Linked DNA regions of Homo sapiens: all the other regions are linked to region 1. The links come from fine-mapping of genetic effects on gene expression. A gene starts in region 1. Each other region holds a variant in brackets. All regions are shown on one strand. Distances are from middle to middle. Region 1 holds the start of MTARC2 (mitochondrial amidoxime reducing component 2). Region 2 overlaps MTARC2 (mitochondrial amidoxime reducing component 2). Region 3 overlaps MARK1 (microtubule affinity regulating kinase 1). Region 4 has its middle 28 kb from the start of C1orf115.

Region 1 (7,984 bases):
TAGAAAGATTTTTCCTAAGCAGAAGTTGCCAAAATATGACAAACTAGGGGAAAAAGTTATGACTTGGGAAGGCATGATAAAAGGGTAATTTTCTTAATTTATAAAAGGATCTTATAAATTAACAAAAAAATAGATAAGTTGATTCAAATCAGAAGGGAAAAAAGATATGCAAACAGCCAATTAGACTCATGAATCCTCAACCTTTGATATGGTTTGGATCTGTGTCCCCAACCAAATCTCATGTTCAATTGCAACCCTCAGTGTTGGAGTTAAGGCCTGCTGGGAGGTGATTGGATCATGGGGCTGGTTTCTCATGGTTTAATACCATTCCCCTTGGTGCTATCATCCTGAGAGTGAGTTCTCATGAGATCTGGCTGTTTAAAAGCATGTGGAACCTCCCCCCTCTCTCTGGGTCCTGCTCCTATCATGTAAGACATCCACTGCTGCTTTGTCTTCCACCATGAGTAAAAGCTCCCTGAGGTCTCCCAGAAGCAGAAGCCGCCGTTCTTCCTGTACAGACTGCAGAACTATGAGCCAATTAAACATTTTTTCTTGATAAATGACCCAGCTTCAGGTATTTCATTATAGCAGTGTGAGAATGGACTAATACAGCCTCTCATCACCCCTCACTAATTCTACAAATGAAGATGCTGGGCTGCAAATGTACACATTACTGATAAGGAATTTCCCTGCTCCCCTGAAGGCACCCCCAACCCCAGCATTGGTGAAGCTTAAACAGGGCAGGCTATGATAGATAATGGCTGGTGAAGACAGCAAAGACTTGGCAGCACTCACCATGGCAAAGTTCCTCACTTGATGTCTATCCCCATCATTTTGCACATGAGGAGGTGGAAGCATGGAAAGGTCAAGTTACCCATCTATCTAGGTAACTATTTCTTCTTTGATGTCTCAAAGATACCTCTCACTCGCTGTTCACAATAGGCTCATCATCTTTTTTCCCAGACTATCTTCTTCTCTTGAATTCTCTTTTTTTTTTTTTTGAGACGGAGTCTCTCTCTGTCGCCCAGGCTGGAGTGCAGTGGCGCGATCTCGGCTCACTGAAAGCTCCGCCTCCTGGGTTCACACCATTCTCCTGCCTCAGCCTCCCAAGTAGCTGGGACTACAGATGCCCACCACCATGCCTGGCTAATTTTTTGTATTTTTAGTAGAGACGGGGTTTCACTATGTGAGCCAGGATGGTCTCGATATCCTGACCTCCTGATCCGCCCACCTCGGCCTCCCAAAGTGCTGGGATTACAGGTGTGAGCCACTGTGCCCAGCTTCTCTTGAATTCTTAATCTCTGAGAATGGTACCCCCATCCCACCCCAGACTTTTATGCCACAGAGCCAGGAGGCCCCGTGGGCTCTTCCTCTCCCTCTGGCTCTGTGTTCTGTCATCACTATCTCTTGTTAATTCTGTCCCCTGACCATCTCTCCTAACCACATGTCTATCTCCAGCCCCACTGTTATTTTTCCTTGATTTGGAATTACATCAGCCTGAACTAGGGCATTTGCAACTCATCTAACCATCTTTGGTGTTACTCTTTCTCAGAGCAGCCAGAATGGCCTTCCTAGCACCCAAGTCTAATCATGCCAGACTGTTGTTCAGAATTCTGAGGTGTCTCCACATTAAGTAGAGATAAGATGCCTGTTGATCTGACCTCTGCCCACCTGTCCTGCCTCAACTCCCGCCACCTGCTGCATGCACAGGTACATCCTAATACAGCTGGATTGCTGGTGGTTGCCCAAACATGCCACACTCTCTTGTTCCTTCCATTTTTTCAGGCTATTGCACGTGCTGCTCCTTTTGCCCAGAATCCTCTCCTTTACCCATCTCCAAGCCCCTCCTCATGTTCAAGTCTCAGCTCCAAAGCTCCGCCCTCTGAAAACAGCACTGTCCTGAGATTCAGCTGCTCTTTTGCCTCTGCATCCTCTGCATCTTGACCTTGCTTCTCCTCTGACATTATCCTCTAGACTTGCAGGGGAGGTGTCAGTCTTCTGGGGAGTCAGTGAACTGGATGGAAGGGCAGCTTCTTCTAAACTTTAAATCCCCAGTGCCAATCTAGGACGAAGCCTGGTGAATGATCAATATCTATGTGGTGAAAGAAAGAGATGATTAATCAATAAGACATTTGCCCTGTCTGGGAGCTCACGTATAGCGAGGCGATGGCTTTGTAAGCCCCTCACTCTGACAGCAGGCTTGTGGGCAGGGAGGACTCTGACCCTCCTCAGGAGTTGGGAGAGGCAAAGGGGGTCAGCTACAAGTGTACACACATCACATTCACCACACCATGCTTAAAAAACAAATCCATAAGTCGCAGCTGCCAAGCATGATGTAAATGTATGGGGATTGAGGGACTAATTCTGCTGGCCTGAGGTTTTTTCCTGGGTGGGGAGAGATTCAGGCCCTGTTTTGTCTTTCACTTTTCACAAGGAACAGCCAAAGGGAACCTGGCTCCTCTGGTTCTCCATCCTTCCCGGAGTCTCTTCCCACACTCCAGAACGGGCCCCTTTCTCTGGAGGTGGCCAGCCCAGATTTGGGGGGTGGCCCACTGGTTGGCCTCCTTAAACTTTCCTAGAACTGTGCCACAGTTTAAGGGACAAACTTTTGAAAAACAGAACAACAACAAAAAACTTGAAAGACTTCAAACCTTAATTTGTCTGAGAAAATCCACTGTTAACCCAATAGCTTGCTTGAATGGAGGTGTTAAAGATCAACAAAGCCAGACATTAGTTAAACCATGAAAACAGATTTTACTCAGTAACTACTTACAGTAGGAGAAAAAGCTGATCATTCTCATTTGTGCATAGCAGAATGGGCGTTTTAAAGGGTGAAGGAGAGAATAGGGCCGGGAAGCTAGCAGGGGATCAAGTGAAAAATCATGAAGGGGCGGTCAGTATTAATGACGGGCAGCTGTGCCTGGAGCTGGCCGTTATGAAGCTGGGATTCTATCCTCCCACAGAGACTGGGGGACAGAGGCCTATCCTCCCCATGACTGCATTTCAGAGCAATGGCTTTCAGGTCCTTGAGAAAGACACTTCTGAGGTGTAGGCGATACATATACATCTCAAAGCAACAGAGAAAGGATTCACAGTTGTAAGCCCTTTTAAGAAAATATCCTAAAAAAGGGAGGTCAGGGGCTTTACCATCGGGTGTTGGCTAGAATAAACGGGGAATTCTCCTGGCTGCCTTGAGCTTTCTCGGGAAGACATTTTACTGGGGTCGAGGTTAGGCGGCAGCGGAGGGTGGGGGACCTTGAGTCATGCTCCTATAAGCCACGCTAGAGTTCCTCGTCTTTGAGTGCAGAGGTTTAGACTGTGTCTTTGTGTGCAGAAAGTCCTGCAGTTCTCACAGCGACCTGCCAGAAAAAGTCGTTCCCAAATGTTTGTAAATCCTCCGTTGGGCAACCCGCCTTCACGTTCTGCGGTGATCTTGTCGAGCGACTAAGCGTGCAGTATTAGCAGAGAAGGGGGTGGCAGAGTGCTGGCGCTGAAGGTCATGTTGCATGGGTAACTGTCGTGTTGTAGGGGCGGGGAAGAGGGAGGAGACACTGACCACCCCAGAGGCCGCCCCATTAGCTCGCTTGCTTTGGGCGGCGTCGCTCCCACGGCGCCCAGGGTACCCCCGCCGCTGTCTGCCTGTCTTCCTCCATTACCGCGCAGGCTTGGTCACCGCATTAAGGCATTCCCGCTCTCCGCGGAACTGCTCTGCCGTCTCGGCGGTGAAAGTGTGAGAGGGTCCGTAGTTGGGTCAACTTTGACTCCTCTCGCCTGCCCGGATCCTTAAGGGCCTCCTCGTCCTCCCGGTCTCCGGTCGCTGCCGGGTCTGTGCGCCGGTCCGCGCCCGCCCTCGCTCTGCCATGGGCGCTTCCAGCTCCTCCGCGCTGGCCCGCCTCGGCCTCCCAGCCCGGCCCTGGCCCAGGTGGCTCGGGGTCGCCGCGCTAGGACTGGCCGCCGTGGCCCTGGGGACTGTCGCCTGGCGCCGCGCATGGCCCAGGCGGCGCCGGCGGCTGCAGCAGGTGGGCACCGTGGCGAAGCTCTGGATCTACCCGGTGAAATCCTGCAAAGGGGTGCCGGTGAGCGAGGCTGAGTGCACGGCCATGGGGCTGCGCAGCGGCAACCTGCGGGACAGGTACAGCACAGCGCGGGCGCGGGGCAGCGCGGAGCCTGCCTGGGATGAGGAGCGGGGGGGCAGGTGGGGCCCGATCTATCTGGGAAGGACTATAGAGGTTTGCCACCTGAGTTTCTGGGCTGACTGTTGGGCCGTTGGTCGTTTATCTGGGAAGGCCAAGTTCATGCCAGGTTTATTTTTGGTAAAGTAGGTAGGGGCAATCCCTTGCCCTTCCCTAGACGAGAGATTCCTCCTCTGTAACAGGAGGGGGTCTGACCTGTATCTCCAAGTCTCCTTAGCTCTAAAGTTTGTGATTCTATCCTAGTATACCAAAGTAGAAAAATAAAGCTATTGGCACTAGAAAGCAGCAAGAAAGAAACCAAGTGTTGTTCAAGGACATTGGCTTAGGCCTTGCTGGGCCTTGTTCCTCACATTTCTCCAATCCTGGGGGTGCCCTGGAGGCCTGATACACTTTGATGAAGGATGAGCAAGTGGCATGGGGACTCTGGGGCAGAGGTGATACTTGCCATTAAGGGAATAGTGTCCCCCCTTCTCCCATAGGCAGAGTTGTTCACAGCCTGGAACTTTGGGACTTTTGGGCCTGACACATAGACATTTCATACTTAGGATTAAGATGCCTTCTTCTTTTTTTTTTTTTTTTTTTTTGAGACAGAATCTCACTTCGTAGCTCAGGCTGGAGTGCAGTGGCACTATCTCAGCTCACTGCAACCTCCATCTCCCAAGTTCAAGCAATTCTCCTGCCTCAGCCTCCCAAGTAGCTGAGATTACAGGTGTGCGCCACCACGCCCGGCTAATTTTTGTATTTTTAGTAGAAACGGGGTTTCACTCTGTTGACCAGGCTGGTCTCAAACTCCTGACCTCAGGGAATCCACCAGCCTCGGCCTCCTAAAGTGCTGGGATTACAGGTGTGAGCCACTGTGCCCAGCCAAGATGTCTTCTTATCTGGCCGAGATGGTTTAGCTGTGGGCCTGTGTCCGAGGGGAGGGAGGTTTGCAAGTTGATCATTCAAGGATTCCTCTAGCAGAGAGCCACCTGCATCCCTGTGTTCACTCCAGGACACGCGGATGCACTGTTTTCTGAAGACTGCTGCCCTCTTAAAGAAATGTGGACTTCCATGGTGTTGGAAAACTTCAGAGAGTCTTAGAGAAGTGTTGTGTACACAGACCATATGAATCATGGGAGGATTTTCATTCTCCCACCCTTACCCCAGATTTCTTATCCTGGAGAGCTTTTTCAACTATAACTTCCTGAGATTCCCATCCCAGGACTACGGAAGCAGAATCACCAAGAGTGGGGCCAACTCGTGTAGAATGTTTAAATCTCCCCCTGGTGATTTTGATGCTATAATTAAAGGATTTTATCCGAGACCATGAAGAAGAAGAGGATGTTTAGAGCTTATTCAAATATGAAGGATAAGAAAAGCCTTCCTATTACTGGAAAGACTTCAGGCTGTGTGGGACTGGACACCTTCCAAAAAACTGGGAGAACCAAATTCTCACGATGCATGTCCAGAGAAAATTAGTGTTGCAGGCTAGGTTGCACTACTTCCTTCCTCGCTTGAAGGGTTGGTTTCACAGACAGTTTCCAGTTCTAATCTGCGTTTCCTCTGATCACCTGAAGAACGGTTTCTTTCCCACTTCTCTTTGTCACTGCTTTGCCATGACTACTGCAACCATGGAAAGAAAATACGTGTCCTTTGCCTGTGCTTTTTGCTCCCACTGGCATCCTAAAATAAATACAACTGTATTACCTTTCCCTTGTTTTAAACAATAAACGCTTAGGATGGGGTGGGGTGATGTGAAGCCTGGGGTAGAGGGAAAGGCAATGAAATTAATGTTATTCAGTGTTAAAATGCAGCAGACACTGAGCTAAATCCTGTCGCATAGATTAGCATATTTAAACCTCATAACAATCTTGTGGGCTAGATAGTATTATCACCATTTTGCAAATAAGGAAACAGTATCAGAATGAAGGAGTATCCCATCCAAGGCCAGAAAACCAGTGTGTGCTGTGGGGATGTGAACTCAGATCTGTGTGAGTACAGAACTTATGCTGTTTGTATGAAACCAGTGCATGATATAAAACTATAAGGATTGCACTGAGGATCAGGAGACTTTGGGCGAACTTCTACAAAGTTGTCTCATTTGCAAAAGAATGAGGTTGAACTTCATGGTCTCTAAAGCCCCATTTTAACTACATTTTATTTATCAAAGCATAATTAACAATTTGAAAGCAGGCTTGCTGGAGAGAACTCTGTTTGATAGCCGCTGTCTTCTCCACCTGACAATTTAATAACACTACTACAAATGTTCCTAGAGTTCAGGGAAAGGCCTCATTTAATGAATTCCATTCTGAACCTGTGTCTTTGGAACTAACTGTTCCAAGGAGCTGGGATTTTCCTCTGGAAGTGCTCTGGGTCTCAAATTTCTAAAGGTATTTTGTTCAAAGCTCTTAGTATACTTGTGAACACTTGGCTTGAGCACCCTAAGCATTGAGTGTTTAAAGTCCACCTGGCAGAATGCTGGCATTCGGTGCCTGGTGCAGTTGCTGGGAGGGCGTGCTTGTCCTCCCTGACCTTGGAAATCTCTGCTCTCCTTAGCAGCCATATGTGAGTTGATCAGTTTTATCTCTCTAAACCCTTACTGAAGCCAGTCCTTTATTTCTTCTGCACAAATGATGAACTGTTGGAGAAAGGAATCCCTTAAGTTTATTATTGTCCAGGGTGTTATTCCCTGCCCAATTCCTGCTGTTTTTCTCCTCCCACACTCAGTAGTAGAGTTCCTGCTTTCCCTCACTTTTCAGTCCTTCCTGCTCCCCAGGCCAGTTTGTAATTGAGAAATGATATTTTTTTCTGTTGTTTTGGGCTCCACTTACCCGTTGCTGTTGGTTGTTCGGGGCTCTATAGCTCTTTTGGGGAATCGGGGCTCCAGGCTTCTACACTGATCCCTCTACCACATACTCATGTTTTACCTGTGAATTCAAGGTGCTGGCTTTTAGTGTTGCAGACTAGGTTGGGGTAACTTGGTTATGATGAAATCTATGCTCCAGACTTATCTCTTCTTTCAGATCTGGCAGAATAGAACTAGTTATTCATTCACTGGGCATCATTTTGTGCACAAGAGGTGAAAAATAATATTGCCCAGGTTGACAGGGAAATGAGATGGTTGGGGTATGTTACAAATGGTAACCTTTTAACCTGTGATTGCTGTATTTGTCCTGTTCCAAAATTGGACTCCCTGTAAGTTGCCAGTTTTTCAGTGACAGTGATGAGTGGGAAACCTCTAGTGACAACTTCCCACTGTTAACCTCAGCAGTTAACACCTGTATTATTATACAACAGTCTGGAGCCACAGGCCAGGCTGTGAGCCACGGTGAAGGGCGACATTAATAAGGGATGAATGGGAGATGAGAAGATTCAGCCCATGGAGAAATAATGTCAGAAATAATGTGCAAACAGGTTTGCCACTCCTGTTTGGACATGGCTCTGGTTGTGTGCAGATCTCAAAGGGAGTCTTGTCTGGGGAAGGGGCATGTTGGAAGTTAAGGGTGAAGGCTTTAGTGAGGCTAACCAAAGAAATGTGCACCAAGGGACAAGGCTGGAAATAGGGAATAGGGCCCAGCCCTGTGAGGCATCTAAGTCAGTGGATGCCTGCCTATTTCACTGTAGCCCCATTCTCTGGGCAGACATCCTCAGATTTACAGAACCCAGCCCCAGGATGAGTGAGCCAGAGAACTGTGGGATCTAAAGACATCTTTGACCAGGCAGGATGGCTCACATCTGTAATCTCAGCACTTTGGGAGGCCAAGGAGGGAGGATTAATTGAGCCAGGAGTTCCAGACCAGCCAGGAGGT
Region 2 (7,984 bases), 28 kb after region 1:
GCCAAATTGCTTTCCAGAAACCTTATACCAATTTATATTCCCTCAAGGTGAGCATAAGCGTGCCCTTTTCATTGTGCTCTTCCTGGCATTGCTATAATTTTTACTAATTTAGTAAGTGAAAAGTAATGTCCTATGTAAGTTGGTAATTCTTAGTGTATGGCATCCTGTCTTAGTCCCCAAATTCTAAAATATTCATATTTGCAGCAAATGTTTGAGGGTTTCCTAGTGCTAGTCTCTGAGATAGATGCTAAGATTACAGAGATGACCTCACTGTGTCTGCCTGCAAGGGTCTCAGGGCCAAGTGGGATCAAGGCTACAGTAGGTAGAGGGCTGCAGCTGAAGTCAGGACATCAGACTTGAAGGATCCCAGTGAGAAAGAGGCACTCTGGGCAGGGTGTGTGTGTGTGTGTTTGTGTGTGTGTGTGTGTGTTTGGGGGCAGTGGATGCTGAAGACTTGCTTGATATGAACTGGATCCAATTGCGGGAACCATGGCATGGTCTTTCTTTATAAGAAGAGTGATTAGATTTTGAAATATGACATTAAGGAATATTCATTAGCTTGTATGTCTTAAGAATAGAAAAAATAACTTTCGGTTTGAGATCATTTAACTCTGGTATAATGGGAAATATATATTTGGGCTTCGTCTCTGGTTCCTGGCACAAGCTCCTAAGCCCTTGGAATTTCCCGAGTGACGGGGTAAGAGGAGTTTCTTTTGTCATTCATAGCAAGCCCCTTTCAATCATACCTGACTTTATGCTAGTGAGATGACTCTTGGGGAAAGAGGGGTGTCCCTAGACAGCTTTGGTATGTGAGCTGGTTCTTAGAAAGACTAAGCCATGATTAGAGGGTTGGGACTTTCAGCCCCACCCAGCCCTGATCTCAGGGGAAGGGAGAGGGGCTGGAGGTTGAGTTCAGTCACCAATGGCCAATGATTTTATCAATCATTTACATGAAATGAAACCTCCAAAAAACCCCTGAAAGATGGGGTTTGGAGAGCTTCTGAGTTGGAGAACACATTGAAGTTCTGGGAGGGTGGTGCACCCGGAGAGGGCATGAAAACTCGGAGAGCCTCCATCCCCATCCCTTGCCCTAGACAGCATTTCCATTGGGCTGTTCCTGACTTGCGTCCTTTATAATAAGTCAGGAACAACAGTAAAGCCTTTTTTGAGTTCTGGGAGTCATTCTAGAAACTTGTCAAACCTTAGGAGGGGATTGTGGGTACCCTCAATTTATAGCCAGTTGGTGAGAAGCATGGGTGGCCTGGACTTGGCTGGCATCTGGGATGGGGGGCAGTCTTGTAGGACTGAGCCCTTACCTAAGGGATCTCTACTTGCTTCTAGTAGTGAGTGTCAGAATTGAGTTGAATTGTTGGACACCCAATTGGTGTCAGAGAATTGCAGAAATGGTGTTGGAAAAGACATCATGTATTTGATGTCACAGAGAATCTAATGAACTATCTAGACAAAAATTATTTTTAAGATGTGCTGTTGGGATTATACCTCTTATAAAAAATAAAGCAAAAAAGGCAAAAGAAAAAAATTAAGATTTATTATGAAAAACAAATAATGTTTAAATCTTGGTGAGGAGCCTTCCAGATTTATTGCTATAAATGTATACACATAGCTATGTATACAGATTTTTTATGTACATGGAATCATCCTCTATTATATATAAACACACACACACACACACACACACATATAAAATGTGCCTTGTGTTTTTTTCACTCAGCAACACCTTGAAAAGTGTTCAGTGTTAATAGATATAGACTCACATCCTCGTTTTTTTTTTTTCAGACAGGGTCTCACCCTGTCGCCCATGCTGGAGTGCGGTGACGTGATCTCGGCTCACTGCAACCTCTGCCTCCCGGGCTGAAGCCATCCTCCTGCCTCAAGTCTCCTGAGTAGTTAGGACCACAGGCACACACCACCACACCTGGCTAATTTTTGTAATTTTGGGAGACACGAGGTTATATCATGTTGTCTAGACTGGGAGCACCCTTTTTTAATACCCGAATAATGATTATTGCACATATGTCCCATGTATATTTAGCCAGTCTCCAGGAGGTGACTTGGAGCTTTCTATAATCATGTAGAGTCATTGATATCAAGTCAGAAAAATTGCTATGGATTTAGAAACAGAATAGTCTTATTTACATATTCCCTCGACTTATCACAAAATAGTTTAAAGTTGTTTCTAACAATTGTGCGTACAACACAATATTATAAACACATGAGTAGAAAACCAGGAGCAGTGAAAGTGAGGCGCCAGTCCTGCGACAGAGATTAAGCAGATGAAGGGGCTGGGATGGTGGTGGCAGGAGGCTCAAGGAACAGAATCCCAAAGGCTTGGTGGCCTGGATCTAATTTGAACTGCTGCTCTGATCTGTGGTCTTACAAGTGATGTCTTTCATAGCCCATTGCCACGGCAGGCCATGCAGGCTCTTTCCACCTCACTCTCAGCGGTCTTATACTTCTGTGGTCAGCTGGTATTTAAGAACTCACCTTGGCCTCCATTCTCACCTGACTGTGCACTCTCTCTGGCTATACATAGAGAGATGGACTATATAGGTAGAGATATATATTCTTCACATCTGTATCTACTTCCTCTGTCTGTGTGGATATAGCCATGCAATTGTGTGTCTATATAGACCCGTGTGTGTGCGTGTGTGTGTGTGTGTGTACACACATTCGTATGCATCTACGGAGAGAGAGACAGGAAAAAAGGGAGGGAGACTCTCCATTAGTAGTCAACTTTTAAGTTTCATACATCCAATTTTTTTGCTTGGCAAATGCCTACATGGATCTATGAAGGTTTCAAACAGACAAACACCCTCAGTTGTGTGTTCCACAACACCCACCCGCCCCACCCTTATTTCACTTCTCTCTCTGGGTGCTGCTTGTGATGGAAAACCCTCTAGTCCTAATTTAGTATTTACAAGATGTGCACACGTTCATTCATAGCAAATCCTCAGGATTATTTCCTCAGAGCTGAACCCTTATGTATAGTACTCCCCTTTCTCCTTGCCTTTTCCTCTTCCTTACCTTGCTTCTTTCATCTTGAAAACTCCATAGTTTTATCCCATCACTCTAAGTAAATGTCATTGGGGCCTGGATTTCGGCAGACTGCGGAAAGGTTGATTACCAGCAGGGGGCGCACTAAGCGTCTCGAGCTGATTTTGTGTTTAGGGAAGACCCCGGAATCTTTTTCTCTACCTATTTACTTATTTATTTTTATCTTTCCAACTTTTATTTTAGGTGCAGGGGTACAGGTGCAGGTTTTTTATATAGGTAAATTGTGTGTTGCTGAGGGTTTGGTGTACAGATTATTTTGTCAGGCAGGTAATAAGCATAGTACCCTATAGTGTTTCAATTCTCACCCTCTTCCTACTCTCCACCCTCAAGTAGGCTCCCGTGTCTGTTGTTCCTTTCTTTGTATCCATGTGTATTCAACATTTAGCCTCTACTTATACATTAGAACATGTTGTATTTGGTTTTCTGTTCCTGCAGTAATTCTTTCAGAATAATGGCCTCCAGCTCTATCTA[T/C]GTTGCTGCAAAGGACATAATCTGTGTTTTTTTATGGCTGCATAGTATTCCATGGTGTATGTATACCACATTTTCTTTATCCAGTCCACTGTTGATAGGCATCTAGGTTGATTCCATGTCTTTGCTGTTGTGAACAGTGCTGTGATGAATATACGCGTGCATGTGTCTTTGTGGTAGAATGATTTATATTCCTTTGGGTATATACCCAGTAATGGGATTGCTAGGTTGAATGATGGTTCTATTTTAAGTTCTTTGAGAAATCTACAGATCGCTTTCCATGGTGGTTGAACCAATTTACATTCCTACCAACAGTATATAAACATTCCCTTTTCTCCACAGCCTCGCCACCTGTTATTTTTTGACTTTTTAGTGATAGCCATTCTGATTGGTGTGAGATGGTAGTTCATTGTGGTTTCGATTTGCATTTCCCTAGTGATCAGTGATATTGAGGATTTTTTCATGTGCTTGTTGGTCGCGTGTATGTCTTCCTTTGAGAAGACACTGGAACTTGCTGAATAGCGTATTTCACTCTTTGTATGTCTAGTAGAATGTAATGGAAATTTTAATTTCATGCATTATTAAATTTATTTTAATAGTATATAATTTATTATTTTAAATAACTGAATTAATAATTGCATTTAAACTTAATTAGCATAGTATTTTTTTTACTGCAAATAATGCTTTACACCAAAATGCTGACAATGATCAGATTAGGTTGAGAATATATATGATTATAGGTGGTGATTAATATTTTAGGAAGTAACTAGAGCCGGCATTTGGGGGTGTTGCGGACGATTCTTACGAATCCAGACAATTTGCTCTTTTAAACGCGGCCTTGCGGTTGTCTAACAGTGAGAATAGATGACTAACTGAATTTGTCAGACTCCCTGCCTTCTGTCATAATAACGACGCAGAATTGCCACCGTTATGTGTCTTGGAAATCTTAAATTCTTTAGCTCTCACACACAAAAAATTGAACGGAAGATACTTGGAGAGCCAGGGTCCATTCAGCACAGCGCGGCTGGGTCGGCTTCCATTCCTGGGTCCGCAGCGCCCTCGTGTGGTAGGTGCCCAGCCTTCCTGGCTGCATCTCAGGCCAGGGTACCCATTGATCCTTACTTCCCAGTACAGTAGCTGCCTTCCTGGGTCACACCCCATCGGAGGTCACGATCTACCAGGAGGTTAGCCACCCGCTGTGGTTGTCTTGTAGTTCTTCGCAATAAGTTACTGGCTAGGAGTGCTTGTAATAAGTCCTGAGTAGGACATGGCGATTCCATTCCTTACACATGTTGTGTACACGCAGTTATCCTCAACTGGTTGGTTGGACCGTGGCGTTTATTTCCACAAAGCAGCAGTTTCCTAAAGGATGGTTTAGAACCCAGTGCATCCATGGAGACCTCCTTACTTTAGTCTCTAGCTGTGGTCATGCCCTGTAGGAGATTTCTGAGTTTTGAAGACCCGGTTAGGTACTGGAGAATCATTTGCATTTGCTGAAGCACCACTATAGGCCCGGGAGGGGGTTGGAGGGGCTGGCTTGCCACTGAAGGAGGACCAGACATGGCCTGGTCATCAGCGGCAGAGGGAGAAAAGTTATGGGGCTAGTCCCTACCCCCTGCCCTGCTCTGCCTCCTGCAGAGACTTCAGACCTCTTATGCCTCCTGCCCAAGCGAAGCAGCCAGGGGAGTAGGAATAGGTTTCTTTAGTTCCTAAGTCAAGACGATTGTTTCTCCGAATTCCTTAGACTCACAGTCTATGTTGTTGATTTATGGAGGCAGTAGTGAGGCCCCGTACCCCAATGCCTCCTACCTTGAGACCTGGACAGAGGATTGCCCTGTGAAATTCAAACCTTAAATCAGTAGGTAGCAGCAGAGACAGGCATGGTGCCTTAAAGATAAAGAATACAGATGGCCTCCCTATTCACGGAGGGGCCTGCAACCTTTATATAGCTCTACATACATCCCCTCCCGTGTGCAGATGCTTCTTGACTTACCATGGGGTTACCTCCCAATAAATGCATCATAAAGTCAAAAAGTTGTAATCTGTCTGGATATATGTATTGGTCTGTTCTCACATTGCAATAAAGAAATACCTGAGACTGGATAATTTATAAAGAAAAGAGGTTTAGGCTGGGTGCGGTGGCTTACACCCTGAAATCCCAGCAGTTTGGGAGGCTGAGTTGAGCGGATCACCTGAGGTTAGGAGTTCAAGACCAGCCTGGCCAACATGGCGAAACCCCATCAGTACTAAAAATACAAAAATTAACCGGGCATGGTGGCACTGCCTGTCATCTCAGCTACTCAGGAGGCTGAGGCATGAGAATTGCTTGAATCTGGGAGGCGGAGATTGCGGCTGCAGTGAGCCGAGATTGCGCCACTGCATTCTAGCTTGGGCAACAGAGTGAGACTCTGTCTCAAAAAAAAAAAAAAAAAAAAAGAAAGAAAGAAAGAAAAGCGGTTCATGGTTCTGCAGTCTGTACAGGATGCATAGCGGCTTCTGCTTCTGGGGAGGCCTCCCGAAGCTTCCAATCATGGTGGAAGGCAAAGGGGGTCCAGCTTCCTACATGGCAGAAGCGGAAGCAAGAGAGCGAAGGGGAAGTGCCAGACACTTTTAAGCAACCGGATCTCGCAAGAACTCACCCACTATCATGAGAACAGCACCAAGGTGGTGGTGCTAAACCATTCATGAAAGATCCACCCCCATGATTGAATTCTGTCCCGCCAGGTCCCACCTCCAACAGTAGGGATGACAATCCGATATGAGATTTGGTGGGGACACAGATCCAAACCATATCATGTTATACGTGTATATGTAATATTGAAGGAGTTAAGATCACATGAACCCAAAATATGCCGCTCCAGCATGTTGACTTTTTTGAGTTAAGAACACTTGAAAAACAGAGGTGCAAGAAGATCACTCTGCCCTTCCGTTTCTTAAAAGCAGGAGATGAAATTCCTGTGTAAAAGATGTCTCCCAATACCAGAAGGAAAGTGTCATGCTTATCATCAAGGACAAAAAGTTGAGGCTGAGGGAAATCTGTACAAACCCTGTCAAGCCAATCCTCATCTTCCCTGTCCCTCTCTACCTAGTTAAGTACCCTAGTCCTGCCACATCTTTGCCCAATTCTGCATATAATGTAAGTGTTCAACTCTAATTGCATCTTCATTTTGTCATGAAGGTTCCAGTGCCACGTAAAAGTTATATTAAATAAATATGTATGCATTTCTCCTGTTGATCTATCTTACGTCAATTTAATTACTAGGCCCAGCCAAAAAACCCTAAGAGGGTAGAGGTGATTTTTGCCTCCCTACAATATAATCCATATAACCACCTTATATATGTATATGTATGTGTGTGTGTATAAAAACAAATCATATTATATATATAATACAATCTCTATATTCCTCATATATGTTTCTGTATATGTGTGTGTGCACATATAAACATATATATGGTTAAAAGCTGGGTAGTTCAAAGTCCTACCTTCAGAATCAGTAAGATTTCAAACCCAGCTGCTTTACATCCTCCAGTGTGACCTTGAGACAATTTTGTATCTCTCTAGTCCTCCATTTCTTTGGGTAAAATGGGGCTCATGATAGCGCCTCCCTCAAAGTTGTGAGGATTGAGTTAATCCCTGAGGCAAGTGTTAGTGGTTCCCACGTTCAAGGGTGGGAAGGCAAGGCACAGTCAGTGGCAGTGGGATCAGGACCCCATTAGCAGGCTGCCTGTCTGTGAAGGTGGCAGCAATGAATGTGTGAATCATGACTGCCTTCTCTTGGGTGATGTCCCCACTCTTCAAAGAACCTTCAGATTGTAACTTGGGTTCCACTGCAGCTTAGCTACAAGGGAAGTGTGGGTTTGTCTTGCAAGTTACACATTTCTCATTGTATATCTACACATTGACTTTCCTGTTAATTTATGACTCTCATGGCAAACTGCACTCTATAGAAGATCTGTCATCCCTGCGATGATGGAATCAGGGTTTTGAGACTGGGAGTCAAGAGGTGGACCTGAACTTGCCAGCATTCTGCCTCCCTTTGAGTCCTCTGGGAGATATTTCTTGGTGTCACCTTGTGCTGCTTTCTTCTGCTATAATAGTTTCATACTTAATATGAGCCAAAGAATAAACAGACTCAAAGGCTAATGAAGCCACCATTTAAAAGATAACTTTCTCTTTTCTCTTAGGATACCTGGGATGAACTCCTAATTGGTAGTGTAGAAGTGAAAAAGGTAATGGCATGCCCCAGGTAAGGAGCCTAGCTAGACCCCAGGACTGTGGTGTGGCCCATTCATTGGTTCCTAAGCATCACCTAACCCTTGGTTACTGCATAACAGGTGTATTTTGACAACGGTGGACCCAGACACTGGAGTCATAGACAGGAAACAGCCACTGGACACCCTGAAGAGGTAGAATACCACCACAGCCAGTGTATTTTAAATA
Region 3 (7,984 bases), 93 kb before region 1:
TACCGGCCTGGGTAATGTGTTGGTTACATCTCATTTTGTTCATTAAGAGTTTCTAAAAATATAGCACCATGTGAAAATACATGATAGTCACCATCACATTAAGACCTTTCTAATAAGATTCAGTGTTTGTTATGGAGGAAAAATTGAATTGTAACATAAACTTTCTATGTACTTTGGCTGTTATTGGAAATGTTGCATATAACTTAAATCATTTTCTAGAGGAATTTTTTTAAGGATTTGATTTTACATCCGTCTATAAAGTTAAAAATTGCTGTTTAATTTGTCATTTAGGTAAATTGATTTTTTTATTATTTAAACCATACGAACAAACACTAGACTGTGAGTTGAGACCCGCAGATAATGATCAGGCTCAATTCCTTGTTCTTAATAAAACCAGGCTTCAGTTTTCCTGTCAATGAAACTGATGAACTCAAAGAGCCTGTTCAGATATAAAATTGTATAATTGTTTTTCTAGTATTTTTCTATTTTAAGATTTCCCAAATTCAGTACATCTGAACATTTTAACCCTCTGTTAGATTTGTTAGGCATATTGGTGGTGCCATGTGGTATTGTAGCATCACTGAGGCCTAAATTAGAAATAGGAAATTATTTTATTCAAAGCCTTTTTAATAAACAATAAAATTTGTGTTCAACATTGCTAAGTGGTTTCAGGAGAATATTAAAAAAATATTTGCAGTACTCCTGGTTTGGCATTCCTGATACTGAAAAGTATTTATCTTTGTGTCCCTGTTTCAGTCATTTCTTGATTTTTAGTGACCAAACAAAAGGTACCTAATTTCAAACTGAAATTTTACTCCAAACCCATGTCTCACATCTCTAATGTGAACAAATAAAGTAGGGCCAAAAGAAGTAGCCATAGCTATTTGTTTCAAGTTTTTAGCTTGAGTGAAAGGTTTTCTTGTCATTATTCTGAATGATATATCTTAATTTGTCCCAGCAGTACAACCCAGAGAGTGCCTGCTGCTTCCCCATCTGCTCACAGTATTAGTACTGCGACTCCAGACCGGACCCGTTTTCCCCGAGGGAGCTCAAGCCGAAGCACTTTCCATGGTGAACAGCTCCGGGAGCGACGCAGCGTTGCTTATAATGGGCCACCTGCTTCACCATCCCATGAAACGGGTGCATTTGCACATGCCAGAAGGGGAACGTCAACTGGTATAATAAGCAAAATCACATCCAAATTTGTTCGCAGGTCAGTACCAATGTACTGTCGTGTTTTGATTCCTCTAGAAATTATAAAGGAAACTAGACTTTTTAAAAAAATCTTTATAATAATTTTCTAAAATGGTTTCATAACATTTCATTAGAGCTGCTCTTTTACAGAGTTGGAAGAAAAAAATCTAGGAAGACATAAAGTATTTTTCCTTAAGAGAGAGAAAGGAAAAAATGGACAAAATGAGATTTTAAAAATCTGTAAAATAAAATGGAAAGAACAAAGACTTAACTTCAAAAATGTGTGTTTTAACAAAAGATTATTTTATATTTAAAAGCCTTGATTGAGGAAAAGAAATGAGTTTACATGTTTCCTTCAAATTTATCTTGACAATACTTTTAAATTGCTTACTAATAATATATAATTTACATTTTTTTCTTCTTGCATAAAAAGCCTACACACCAGAGTCACAGATCACTTATGCAATTTTACATCATAAAACCTTATCATCAAAACATAGTAAACACAAAATGAATACATGTATAGTAAAGGTCTAATCTACTTAAACAATACAATTATACTTTCTAAAAAGTAAGCATACTTACTATGCTTACTATGCATACGTGTACAGTGCACATTGATGATACAAGTTGCTACTACAATGCAGGCTGATGTGGATTTCATCTATTCCTGGTCCCACTAAATGCCTACTTAAGCCCTGCGACAGACAAAGCACTGTGTTAGGTGCAGAACAGAATCTAAAGATAGGTAAGATGGCATCTGTGCCCTCCAGATTCTTATAGTCTTGTAAGAAGCAGACAAACAACTAGCCATGATATAAAGCAGAACATGTGCTAAAAAGTGTGGGCAACATGCTGGATTCCAGAGGAAGACACAATTGTTTCTATCTAGGGAGACAGTGAAGGCACCCTATCATATAATCATTTCAGCTGAGCCTTCAATGATGGGTAAGAAATAATTATACTTGCTTTAAGAAATACTAATTAAATACTTAGTTTCCAATGTTATTAGTGTTTCTAGGATTTCAAAGAGTGGATGTGGAAAAGAGAAGAAGCAGCTTCAGTCTTACTTGCCTTGTCATGGAGCTATTTATAGGCTTGGTTCATACATCAGTTTGCCCAGTATCACATAGCTGAATTAAAAACTTTAAAGCCTCAAATGTAACATAAATTTCTAACCATATCAGTCAGTGACTTTGTACCATTGGGGCAATTACTATGCAGCATGAAACTTGCTAGAGAAAGAACTAAAAGTTCACCAACAGAGTCAGCATGGAAGTTAGATCATAGTGTTAGCCGGCCATCTGCAGGGTACTAGTCAGATTATCAGTAGTTTCTGCTTTTGGAATTTGTCTATTTAAGGCCATTTCAAAAAGCCAGTACTTTCTCATGGTTAAGCCAGAATTAATTTTAAAGTGAAGAAAAATAGGTTTATAGTTTAGTGCTTGATTACTAATTGTGCATTAAGCATTGTGCAAAATATTTCTCTTAACTGCAACAAAAATTTAGACTCTAGGGGAAACAGAGTACTTTGGAAAGGAAGTCGTGAGATAGAATGCCAAAGCAAGAAAGTGCCTTAGAGCTGGTCTGTTGGGAGGTTCTGATAAAGATTGCCATATAGTCTTTGAACACATATGTGGAGACCTACTACACGCAAGGCCCTTTTGTAGGAGCTATTGCTACGGCAGTGAGTGAGACTGATGGGTCTCCTGCCTTCCTGTGAGCAACTTACTATCTTGAAACATTCCACACATTTAAAGCGTTTCCCTTGCTTGGCTCTGGTTTTCTCCTACCTCACAGACTAGCTATCACTTCTCAGGCTCCTTTGCTGGCTTTTTTCAGATTCCCTTGCCTTTCCCCCAACCTCTAAATATTAGAATGCCCCAGAGCTCAGTCTTTGGACACATTTTTTTCTCTGGTTTTCCTTACACTCTTGGTGATCTCAGTCAGGCTCATGACATTAGATTCCGTCCTGTATGAACAACTCCTAACTGTATCTCTAGCGCACATCTTTCTGCTGAACTGCAGACTCATATCCAACTGCTGCTCAGCCTCTCCACTTAGATACGTTATAGACTCTGAAACAGAACATGTTCAAAAGTAAACTCTCGTTCCTCTTCCCAAACCTGTCCCTCCCTCATTCTTCACCGTGTTAGAAATTGGCAGCCTTGTCCTTACAGTTGCTCAGACCATAAGCCTTGGAGTTATCCTTGACACTTCTTTTCCTCATACCACCTCAGATCCATTGGCAATTTGTGTTGGCTTTACCTTCACAGCATTTCCAGGATTTAACTGCTTGTATCACTCCCGCCACTGCCTTCATACTCTGAACCACTATTCATCTTTCACTTCCTCATAGGTCTCCTAGTTTCTGTCCTTGTCCTCCTCTTCTGTTTCAGCAGTGTCATGTCAAGTCTGATCATGTCACTCTTAAATTTAAAGCCCCTGATTAGCTTTCACCTTGCTCAGAATACAATTCTGTGCCCTCACTGTGGCCTGTGGGGCCTTGTGTAACCTGGCCATCCATTTCTGCTCTGACCTCTTCTCCCACTCTTCCCCTTGCTGCTTCCACACCAGCCACACAGGGACCAGACTGTCCTCAAGTACATTAAGCACTGCTTTGGCATTGTGTACCTGCTATTCCTTCTGCCTGGAATTCTCTGCCCTGAATACCTGCATGGCTCACTTCTACACCAAACCTTATGATTTTCTAACCATAGCTCATTCTTATATAGGGAACAACCCAGTTTGTTCAGTTGAGTATATATTGCTATCTGTAGGTAATTGTTTTTTAAGTGTTAAGTGTTGGAGAGCATGCTGTGCTGCATATGCTGTTAGAGCCAGCTGCACCTTCTGTAGCTCCATCTGCCTCCTACCATGGCTACTTAAAGCAGACTTCCTGGGCTCTTTGAAACAATTGCCAAGTAGCAGAAATTTTTCCAATGTTCCTACTGGCATCCAGGTAGGCAGGAACAGGGTATGGGTCAATTGCTATTTCAGTCAATTACAGCAGAGGAGATAGGGTCTAAGGGACATTTCACTCCTAATGTTTTAAGTTTGGCAGCTGTGGTATAGGTGTTTGCTAATAGTGAATAATAAAGCATAATATAAATAGGACAGAAAAGTCCAGTGAGATTTTTGTCCCTTCCTAAAGGAATTTTGTCTTAGCAGTGGGAGTCAACAGCATTACTGTCTTGCTTGCCAAGTTGGTATACTGCCCATCTGTGTATATCAGTTCATCTACATGTAACTGAAAATGTACATTTCACTTTCAGCCTGCTCAAAAATGTTTTATTTATTTCAATGTGCTATAATAAAAATGGATTTGTATAGATGGCATTGAATTTTTATTATACTTCCCAATGAAAATGCCAGTTATTAAAAATAGAAATTTAAGAAATTACATTTGAATGTGAGAATACATTTTAGTATTCTTTTAAATTCAGATAGAAAA[AT/A]TTTTTTTTTCATAATATGTTTGTTAAGAAAGGCATGTATTAGTTAAAGACCCTGAGAGGCATAAGGCGTTCATATTCTTAAGAACAATTTAAAATTTTAGGGCTTGGTATGTGGGTGTGTTTTATGAATTTGGGGGATGGGAGAGTACCACTGATTTTATTCTTATTGCATTCGTTTTACATAAATAATAGAAATGTTTCTGGAATGGCTAAAACATTAAGACAGTATTAACTTAAGGATTCAAGTTGGTGATTTTTCCCACTATTTAATAGTATTTTACCCTTTATCACAAGATATTTAATTACCTTTAAAAATAACAAAGCATTAAAATTTTGGTAGACTTCAAAAATATTAATTACATGCAACACAGAACAATTAGTAGTGTTTTCCTGGTTTTATTTCGCAGGTGGATATCCAGGTAAGGTCAGTGTTTTTATTTAAGATTGAATCCGTGTTTTTAGACTTGCCTACATGGATAGGCTGTTAATTTGCTGTGATATTTTATCATGTGCATGAATTGTTAGCATAACTTCTAAAAGAAATTGCTTATTTGGAAATTGGTGTTTATTTGCTAACTACAAGGTTAATGTATATATTTTCTAAATTGAGCGACTACTAGAATTATACATAATTACAAATTTGAAGTTGAATCTTGCTATTGATAATTATTAAATAGTTTTAACTTTAGATTAAACTAAACCAAAAGATAAATTATGACTTCAAATGAATCATGGCTGGGAATTGGAAGATTATGAAAAAAAAATTTCAAACTTTCACCTCATATTGCCTCTTGACAAAAATGAGTAGACGCTCAATAAATGATAAATTACATGCGGTTATGGTGAAAAATATGAGAAATAGTCTCAGACTGACTAGTAATAGAAAACTGTCATGGTAGAAGTTTGCTCAACAAGCTAATTTTAAAATAATTTTAGATATAGGTTTTCTTGATATATTTTTTACTTTTATCATTAAATCTCAACCTTCACTTTGTTTTGAGGGATCCAAGTGAAGGCGAAGCCAGTGGCAGAACCGACACCTCAAGGTGAGGAGCCACTATTAATACTTCGCTGCTAGGTCCCTGTGTATGAAAACGTACTTTTGAAATACTTACAGCACTTAATGATCATGAATAGATCTAATAACTAGATAGCATGCGTATTTTAGATTTTTATATTGGGGTGGGTTTTCATAATGTTACCTAGCATTCAAGTCAGTCAACTTTAAGTTTGTTTTCCAAACATGCATTTGAATTGTGTACTTGGTATAGAAATAGGCTTTCTGTTCTATAAAGTATGTCAAGCTAAAGAATTAATAGATTAAATGTACTGATATTTTTCTCACTAAAGTAATGTAACTAAAATTAGTCTGAGTCAAATAGCACAAATAACACAGAACAGGGAGATAATTACATGTAGGAAGATTTGATATTAGTAATATATTTTAGGTGATAATTCAGTGTTTGACCACATTTAAAAATTCTATCCAGGCATACTTTTGGGGATTTCTTTTTTTGACATTTCATGCTAGTTGTATATTCATTCTGGCAATGGGTTTCATACTTGAGCACAATCAGAATTACAGGGAAGGCTTGATAAAAAGGTTGCTGGATCCCACTCCCAGGGTTTCTGATTCAGGGGCCGAGGCAGGTGCCTGTGCATTTGCATTTCTATCAAGTCCCCAGGAGATGCTTATGCTGCTGTTCTAGGGACCACATTATGGACATGTTAGTACTTGTGTTCATATTTTACAAACGGGAAATTTAAGAAATGAAGACATTAATTTATTTTGAGTGTACCCAAGCATTAAGGGATGCAATGTAAATTTTACAACCAACAAGTATTCCACAGTATGAAAGGCTCTGGCTTCATTCAGGAACGATTGTGACCAGCTGAACACAAACCTCCAATTTGATTTCTACTTTTCAAGTTACTTAAAATATAAAACATAATTAACTTTGGAAAACTATAGCATTCCCATGTAGTCTTTTTAACAAACTGTGCTATATTTACATTTAGTAATAATAGTTGAAATGTTTCTTTGTAGAGTTAGGTACCTGAGTCACCACAGTAGGGAGCCACAGGGGAGCAAGACAAATATTCTTCACTTTCTTCTGCCTTTTATAGAAACATGGAGGACTTGTTCTTAGCCTCTCCCTCACTTAGTCTTCACTTTTGAGCCCCTCCTTGCATTTCATCCTATATTTCCACTAAATTTCCCTCTGAGACATTTAGTAGTGTGTGGCATTGCAAGTGGCCCTTAATAGTTGCATTTTTGTCCTTTTAATGTAACTATATAATTTTATTACATTATAAGAATTAGTAACTGATATTTTATAAATGTTTACACAATACTTTTCACATTCCCTTTTGTTTGGTTGTTGTTGGGTTTGGTTCTATTTTTGCTTTTGAACTGACTTATTGAATACTAACTATAAAGTACTTTCTGATCATTTAATTTTCACAACAACTAGGTGAAAATGCCTATTTTACAGATGAAAAAAAACAGCAAGGAACATAGGTGGGATCAAGCCAGCTATAATAAGGTTCTGTCATTTCAGGGAGATGAGGTGATACTGTGGTTAGAAGTATAGGTTCTCAGCCAGAGTGCATGGGTTTCAGCTATGTTCCACCACTTACCTTACTGTGTGGCTTTGGGGAAGTTACTTCAACTCTGCGTGCCTCCATTTCCTCACTCTAACTGCCTCATAGGGTTGTTCTGAGGGGTAAATGAGTAATTAATACATTTTAGGCACTTAGGACAATTCCTGCACCTAGTAAGTACTCAATAAATGTTAGCTGTTATTATATTAATATCCACATTTCCAGGAGCTTTCTACAATGGACATTATCAGTGGTAATGTCTGTGAGACCATGCAGAAAAATATTTCATTGTCTTAAGGTCATCTTAAGGTGGAATAGAAGGAAACTAGACTTAGAATAATATCCCTAAATTCTAGTCTTCACTTTTCAACTCATTAGCTCTATAACTTCAGAAAACTAATTTTTTTTTTTCTTCTGAGACAAAGTTTTGCTCTGTTGCCTAGGCTGGAGTGCAGTGGCACGATCTCAGCTCACTGCAACCTCCACCTCCCAGGTTCAAGCAATTCTGCCTCAGCCTCCCAAGTAGCTGGGATTACAGGCGCTTGCCACCACACCTGGCTAATTTTTGTATTTTTAGTAGAGACGAGGTTTCACCATGGTGGCCAGGCTGGTCTCAAACTCCTGAGCTCATGGTCCTGCCACCTTGGCCTCCCAAAGTGCTGAGATTACAGGTGTGAGCCACAGAAAACTAATTTTAAGTTTTCCAGCCATCAGTTCCATCTTTAAAATGA
Region 4 (7,984 bases), 30 kb before region 1:
CACATCAACACAGTAATAATGAACACAGAAGACTTCTATGACCTCAAAATATGTGGGTATTTCTCTCTACCAGCAAGCAAGCAATGAATTCTGTAGATGACACCCAAATGGTCATCCTCTAATTCAGTGCTGGTACTATCTACTTGGAGATAGTGTCAGATCTCACAGTTTGAGGGATCAGTCCCCTGAGACTGTGTCCCCCGCTTTAGACCCAGTCACAAGTCTGGGATTCCAAAACTTCTGATCAACCATCTTTAAGTTGGGGTTCCCATGCCCCCCTGGATTAATTTGCTGGATTAATTTGTGTTTGATTAGTTTGCTGGAGCAGCTCTCAGAACTGAGAAAAACAATTGTGTTTACAGGTTTATTATAAGGGCTATTACAAAAGATACAGATGAAGAGAGGCATAGGGTGAGGCATGGGGGAGGGAAAGCAGAACTTCCATGCCCTCTCCTGGCATGCCACCCTCCAGGATCTCCATGTTCCAACTATCTGGAAGCTCTCTGAACCATGTCCCTTTGGGTTGTCATTGAGGCTTTATTACATAGATACGGTTGACAACCATGTAGAAATGTGATTGGACAAAAAGTGCCTGATCTAAACCCAGTAAGCTTGTCTATTCAGACTTTTTGTGGCCTCTCTGCATAGCATTCCTTTCCCCAGGGTTTGAGGCAGGACTGCTTCTGGAATGAGAGTCTTTTGACCCACAGTTAGATTAAAGGCTTGCCTTGGGAAGGTGTAAAGAGGACAGGAGAAGGTCAGAGAGAGAGATTCTATTTCCTGAGGCCTGCTTCTGAGGCTAAAACACCTCAACATTATAGTAAAAGACTGTAACAAGGGCTAGTGGAGTTATTAGCCAGAAACCATAGAGGAAAACCTAAACATATAATCATAATATCACAAGTTATGAATGGAATTGCTGGGTTATTGGCAACTCCATGTAGAACATTTTGGAAAAACTGCCAAATTTTTTTCCATAGTGGCTACATCATTTTACATTACCATCAGGAATGTATGAGGGTTCCAGTTTATCTACATCTTCACCAGCATTTATTGTTATCTTTTTTATTATAGCCATCTTAGTGGGTGTGAGGTGATATTTCACCATGGTTCAATTTTTGTTTCCCTAATGATTAATGATGTGGATTGTCTTTTCTTATGCATGTTGGTCATTTATGTATCTTCTTGGAGTACTACCTATTCAAATGCTTTGTTTTAAAATTGAGTTACTTTTTCTGATTGTTGAGTTGTAGCAGTTCTTTATATATTCTGCATACAAGTCCCTTATATAATAAGATCTATAATGTGCCAATATTGTCTTCTACTCTGTGGGGTGTCCTTTCAATTTCTTGATGGTGTCCTTTGAAGTACAAAAGTTTTTAATTTTGATTTGTGAACTCCAAATATCTGAGAGGGTCTCAGTTAATTTAGAAAGTTTATTTACAAAGTTTGTTTTGCCAGTGTTGAGGATGCATGCCCATGATATAACCACACAAAGTCCTGATGACATGTGCGCACGGTGGACTCATGGAGAGCTAAAATGTCCGTGAATATCAAGCAAAACAGGAATTAACTGCATGGACTGTACTCATCTTTTTGACTTATTGCTTAAAACATTGCTGATCCTTTGTTTTGTTTTTCGGAGTCTTGAAACTTTTCTTTTGAGCTATTGACAGCTTTTAACAATTGAGTACACTCCTATGAACAAAATTTGGAGCATATTTGTTTCTCTCTACCTGATTTCTGAAGAATTTGGAAACTATTTGTGAGTATTCTTAACTTACGACAATACAGTTATTTGCATAAGTGCAATAAGAATCTGTTCTCATTTGTAAGAGGACACAATTGGAGAAACTGGTTATTTTACCAAGGCTTTGACTGGAATGGCATGCTTTCCTTAAGGAATAAAACCTGACTTATGCAGCCAATAAAAGCCCTTGGGAAAACTGGCCTCATACTTTGTCTACAGAGTCCCTGTACAGGGTTTCTGACCTGTCGTTAGTAAAGAATGTCACCTTCTGACAGGCCCAGGAGCCCTAGGTTTATCTTGGAACCTCAAGAGGAGAGGTAATTCACCCAACTCATAGGTATTTGGTGGTGGCACAAATCCATCGCGGGGTTCGGCTTTAAAAATGTCTTGATATTTCTTCTATGGAACAAAGTTTCATCAAAGCCAATTTTAAAAAGCCTATGTGAAAAATAATTATTCTTGCTGTACTTTATACAAATAATCTGGACAGGTAAAATAAAGCAGGTTGGTCCTACCATGATTTGTCTTTAGTGAAAATGGGAAACTGGAGAGAGAGAAAAAATATGTTTCAAAAACTATAGTACACTTGTTGTTAGATTCTAGTCTTGCCTAATGTTTTTCAATTTTTATTATTTTCTACAGTTTGGGCTGAACTCTAATTTTTCCTGGCTACAAGTCTACAAAATAACATTTTCAATATTTTTTTTCTTTCTTTTCTTTTTTTCCCCAATTTTTCCTAATTTGAAATCACTGAAAACTAAGCTGTGTTTCTTAAAGCCCTGCAAACTGAAGCTAGACAACTTAAACTTCAGAAGAAAATAACAGCATCCCATTTACATACATAAGCCACTTTCCAGGATCATTCTTTTGTTTGCTGTTGTTTTTCTCCCTTCCTCCCCTTATTTTCTCTTTATAGGACATGAGACTTCATAACCTGCTAAAAATGAACTTTTGGGACCTACCTGTCTAGGAATAAACCATCCTTGCCATGAGAGATCAGATGAAACCTGAAATCAGAGACTCATTTTCTTCTAAAATACTTTCTCTAAAAGATTTTAAAAAAGAATAGGGGGGAAGTGTGAAAGGAAAATCTTGGGGCCCCCAAATTACTGAACTAAAGGTAAAAGTCAAGCTGGGAACTGGTCAGGGCAAACTTGCTTCCCATTCTATTCAAAGTCATCCCTCTGCTCACTGAGATAGATGCGTATGTGATTGCCTCCTTTGGAAACGCTTATCAGAAATTCAGAAGGATGTAACCCTTTGTCTCCCACCTCCCTGTGACCTGGAAGCCCCCTTCCTTGCTTCGAGTTGTCCCCGTCTTTCCGGATGGAACCAATACACTTTTTACATATATTGATTGATGCCTCGTATCTCCCTAAAATGTATAAAACCAAGCTGTGCCCCTTTTTCCACTGTTCTGATGTCACAATCTCCAAAGTTATTAGAAACCTGCATTCAAGGGCACCAGTTATAGCTGATTATAAAACAACTGTCTAAACAGTACCAAAGCAAGAGAACAATTGTCTGTGGATGACAAAATGTTTTAGGGCCACCATAGTCAAAGACACAATTGGCAAGAAAGTTTGTTACCTTTGTGGCACATAATAATTTTAACGTGACAATTATGATTATTACTGATAATGTACACTTAGTCATATCAGAATTACAGGAGTTGCCCATAATTTTGGAACACATACAAATAACATATTTACACAAATATGGCCCAAAGAAAACCAAACACTGTTTCATACTGAGGGAAGAGAGAGACCCTCTCCTATTGTTTGATATTGTTTTACACTCAGAAAAGGAAAGAGAAG[C/T]GAAACTAAAGGCAGGTAGCCTGGCGCCTAGGAACCAGACCCAAAACCAAGGAACCAGATCTGAAACCAGGCCTGGGCCTGCCTGACCTAAGCTGGGTAGTTAAAGATCGACACCTGACCTAGCAACTGTTGTTATCTATAGATTCCAGACACAGTATGGAAGGACGTTGTGAAACCTCCCGTTCTGTTCTGTTTCACTCTGACCACTGGTGCTTGCAGCCCCTGTCACGCAGCCCCCGGCTTGCTCAATTGATCACGACCCTCTCACGTGGACCTCCTTAGAGTTGTGAGCCCTTAAAAGGGACAGAAGTTGAGCACCTGACGAGCTCGGATTTTAAGACGCTAGTCTGCCGATACTCCCAGCTGATTAAAGCCATTCCCTTCAGTGTCTCGGTGTCTGAGGGGTTTTTTCCATGGCTGGTCCTGCTACATTTCTTGGTTCTCTGACCAGGAAGCGAGGTGATTAATGGACGGTCAAGGCAGCTCCTTAGGCAGCTTTAGCCTGCCCTGTGGAACATCCCTGAGGGGGACTCCAACCAGCCGGAGCGACACGGATCCTGAGAGTGCTCCCGGGTAGGCATTTGCCCCGGTGGGACACCTCACCAGAGCAGTGTGTGGCACGCCCCTGTGGAGGATCAACGCAGTGGCTGAACACCGGGAAGGAACTGGCGCTTGGAGTCTGGATATCTGAAACTTGGTAAGACTAGTCTTTGGAACTTGCCCACTCCATTTGAGTGGAAGCATGGCCTGATCACCCATGGTGTGCCTTTATCAGCACTTTGGTATTGGTTTTGACTTGGTTTGAATTGCTTGATAGGACTGGTCTTCGGAACTTGCCCACTCCATTTGAGTGGAAGTGTGGCCTGATCACCCACGGTGTGCCTGTACCGGCACTTTGGTTTTTGTTTTTGACTTGACTTAGGTTGCTTGATACTTTGGTTCTGGTTTTGACCTGGCCTGGATTTCTGGATACTCTGATTTTGGTTTTGATTTTGGTTTGGTGTAAACCGCAAAAGTGTGTGTGTGCCCTTTTTACCTGTTCTTTGTTTTGTGGTGTATGTGTGGTGTGAGTGTGGTGTTTTGTCTTGAAGAAGCATGGGTCAGGCACAAATAAGCCCACCCCGCTAGGAACTATGTCGAAAAAATTCAAGAAAAGATTTAAGGGAGATTACGGTGTTACTATGACACCAGGAAAACTTAGAACTTTGTGTGAAATAGACTGGCCAGCATTAGAGGTGTGTTGGCCATCAGAAGGAAGCCTGGACAGGTCCCTTGTTTCAAAGGTATGGCACAAGGTAACCTGCAAGGCAGGGCAACCAGACCAGTTTCCGTACAGAGACACTTAGTTACAGCTGGTTTTAGACCCCCTTTCCCAAAACAGTAGTTAAGTGAACAGCAGCATAAGCGGCTGGCAGAGGCAAGGAAAGACCAGCAGAGAGAAAGAGAGGAAAGAGACAGAGAGAAAAAGAGGCAAAGAGAGAGAGGAAGAGACAGAGAGACAAAGAAGGAGTCAAGAAAAGAGAGAGGCAGAGAGAGAGGCAGAAAGAGAGGAAGAGACAGAGGCAAAAGGAAAGTCAAAGAGAGAGAGAGAGAGAGAGAAAGTCAAAGAAAGAAAGAAAAAGAGAAAGAGAAATATACAAGTAGTTAAGAAAAAAACAGTATACCCTATTCCTTTAAAAGCCAAGGTAAATTTAAAACCTATAATTGATAATTAAAGGTATTCTCCATAACCCTGTAACACTCTAATACCACTTTGTTGTCAGTGTAAACAAGGGCATATCCCGAAAGCACTGAGGTCTTCCTATCAAAAATCCTTAATCCAGTAACCCGTGGATGGCCCAGATGCCTTCAATCTGTAGCGGCAGCTGCTTTGCTAACGGGAAAAAAAAGGGCCATCTATACTAATTCTAAGTTAATTTAGACTAAACGAGGTCTTATTAATAGCAAAGGATAACTGAAATCCCAAACTTACAAGGTTTTCAACAAAAGTAAAGTTTGCTAAAGTTAACAGTGTAACATGTATTACAGTAACTTCTAATCTTGTGGCCGTAGACAATCTAGTCCACAGACATAAAGAAAGTTCGCTTTAAAAAAAAAAAAAAGAATGGTTATCTTCAAAAAAAGAAAAAAGGAAAAAAAGGGGGAGGCAGAATTTACATAAAAGAGTGTTATATGGTAAATTCTTGTCCTGAAATAAATTAACTGGTTGTTTAAAGAAAGAAATGTTTATAATAAGTCAGAAAGTTGAGACATGTCGAAGAATTGTCTGTGAAAGTCATGAAAGAAAAAAGGTTATAAAAAAATTTTATGCAAAAAATGTTGTATAATTTAAAAAGCAATAAGGCCTCCTGAGTAGTATTGAAGAAACAGTTTTATGTGCAAGGTGTATAAGAAAAGTAAAATATACCTTTGGTAAAAGGAATATAAGGAGGCATAAGAATGTGGATTTTTACCTACAGTAAAAGGTTAAAAAAATTATTGTTTTGAAAGTTTAAGCAAGTTTTAAAACATCAATTGTAAAGAAAATTCTGTGTGTAAACATATTAGCTAAAGTTAAAAAGGTATCATCCAGTTTTTCTGTGAACTGGACATTAAAGTAAAAACACAACAGGTTTTTCTTAAAGCACCAACCTGGTCTTTAACAAAAATTATAAAAGGTTAAAAAGAGTCTATAAAATCTTACCTTATGGTCAAACATGAAAATTTGGATAAATATGTCTACAAGGTTTTATTAAAATTAAATTTAACATTAATAACACACTAATATAAAGGTAGAGTTTAGCTTATCTGGTATAAAAATCATACAAGAAGCATTATTAAATATAAAATTGTGTTTAGCTTTCTTTGGTCTAAAAACTAATAAAAATAGGTGCTAAAGGAAACATGCATTTTACTAGAGGATCATAGAAGTTAAAGACTTAAAACAAACTTTGGCAATTAAGACAGCACAACAAGATGCAAATGCCTGGTTGGAATGGATCAAATATTCCATCTGCACGTTAAACAAAAGCAATTATTATGCTTGTGCACATGACAGGCCAGAGTCCCAGATGGTCCCCTTTCCACTAAGGTGGTCCTCCAGTCGACCAAGCATGGGCTCCATGGTAGCTCTTTTCCAGGATTCTACAGCCTAGAGTAATAAGTCGTGCCAAGCTCTCTCTGCTATATCCCAATGTCCGGCACCCCGTAGGTCAGCCCCCGAAGGCCATCCAGCTTCTGTCTCCCAACGCTAAGTTCACTTCGTGTCTCTCATGACAGGGAGGAAACTTAGCATTCCTTGGAGACCTGAAGGGATGCAGTGAGCTTAAGAATTTTCAAGAACTTATCAATCAGTCAGCCCTTGTTCATCCCCGAGCGGATGTATGGTGGTGTTGTGGTGGAACTTTACTGGGCACTCTGCCAAATAACTAGAGTGGCACTTGTGCTTTAGTCCATTTGGCTGTCCCTTTAACCCTGGCATTTCATCAACCAGAGGAAGAAAAAAAATAAGACATCATAAAGCGAGAGAAGCCCCTTATGGGTCTTTCAACTCTCACATCTATTTAGATGCAATTGGAGCCCCGCAAGGAATACCAGATCAATTTAAAGCTTGAAATCAAATAGCTACAGGACTCAAGTCAATATTTTGGTAGATGACAGTCAATAAAAATATAAATTAGATAAACTACATCTATTACAACCAACAGCAACAAGCTTTTCATGAGTTAAAAGAAAAACTCAGGTCGGCCCCAGCCCTGGGGCTACCTGACCTGACAAAACCTTTTACACTCTGTGTGTCAAAAAGAAAAAAAAAGGCAGTTGGAGTTTTAACCCAGACCGTGGGGCCCTGGCCAAGGCCAGTGGCCTATCTCTCAAAACAACTAGACGGGGTTTCCAAAGGCTGGCCCCCATGTCTAAGGGCCCTGGCAGCGATGGTCCTGTTAGCACAAGAAGCAGATAAGCTAACTCTTAGGCAAAACCTAAACATAAAGTCCTCCCATGCTGTGGTGACTTTAATCAATACCAAAGGACATCATTAGTTAACGAATGCTAGACTAACTAGATACCAAAGCTTGCTCTGTGAAAGTCCCCGCATAACCATTGAAGTTTACAACACCCTAAACCCTGCCACCTTGCTCCTGGTATCAGAGAGCCCAGTTAAACATAACTGTGTGGAAGTATTAGATTCAGTTTATTCTAGTGGCCCCAACCTCTGAGACCATCCTTAAACATCAGTAGACTGGGAGCTGTATGTGGATGGGAGCAGCTTCGCCAACCCCTGCAAAGTGACTCTGAAGAAGACGACAAGCCCTGCTCCAGTCACACCCGGAAGCTGACTGGTCCACGCATGGCCGAATCATGAGGAAACTCATCGCAGGACTCATTTTCCTTAAAATTTGGACTTCTACAGTAAGGACTTCAACTGACCTTCCTCAGA

Evidence for each region. PIP is the estimated chance that this variant, and not a neighbour inherited with it, causes the effect. A credible set is the group of variants that fine-mapping cannot tell apart.
Region 2: its variant is the best candidate, but not a certain one, in a credible set for the expression of MTARC2 in nasal epithelium (TOPMed, PIP 0.89).
Region 3: its variant is the best candidate, but not a certain one, in a credible set for the expression of MTARC2 in whole blood (TOPMed, PIP 0.88).
Region 4: its variant is the best candidate, but not a certain one, in a credible set for the expression of MTARC2 in whole blood (TOPMed, PIP 0.74).

The regions. Positions count from the first base shown.
Region 1 is chr1:220,744,672-220,752,655 of GRCh38, forward strand. It overlaps MTARC2 (mitochondrial amidoxime reducing component 2), which reads left to right and starts at 3,651. Exons shown (of 8, transcript NM_017898.5): 1 at 3,651-4,132. The coding sequence starts at 3,861. LOC124904516 (a long non-coding RNA gene) reads right to left here and starts at 4,144. Exons shown (of 2, transcript XR_007066884.1): 1 at 3,148-4,144; 2 at 1-2,092.
Region 2 is chr1:220,772,290-220,780,273 of GRCh38, forward strand. MTARC2 (mitochondrial amidoxime reducing component 2) reads left to right here. Exons shown (of 8, transcript NM_017898.5): 5 at 7,729-7,790; 6 at 7,879-7,950. Among named protein-coding and RNA genes, the nearest start is that of MTARC1, 11 kb to the right of the region's middle. RefSeq lists a silencer at 3,070-3,224. The variant T/C (reference allele first, on the strand shown) is at 3,547.
Region 3 is chr1:220,652,140-220,660,123 of GRCh38, forward strand. MARK1 (microtubule affinity regulating kinase 1) reads left to right here. Exons shown (of 18, transcript NM_018650.5): 15 at 1-11; 16 at 962-1,213; 17 at 5,651-5,695. Among named protein-coding and RNA genes, the nearest start is that of C1orf115, 34 kb to the right of the region's middle. The variant AT/A (reference allele first, on the strand shown) is at 4,649.
Region 4 is chr1:220,714,507-220,722,490 of GRCh38, forward strand. No RefSeq gene overlaps it. Among named protein-coding and RNA genes, the nearest start is that of C1orf115, 28 kb to the left of the region's middle. The variant C/T (reference allele first, on the strand shown) is at 3,568.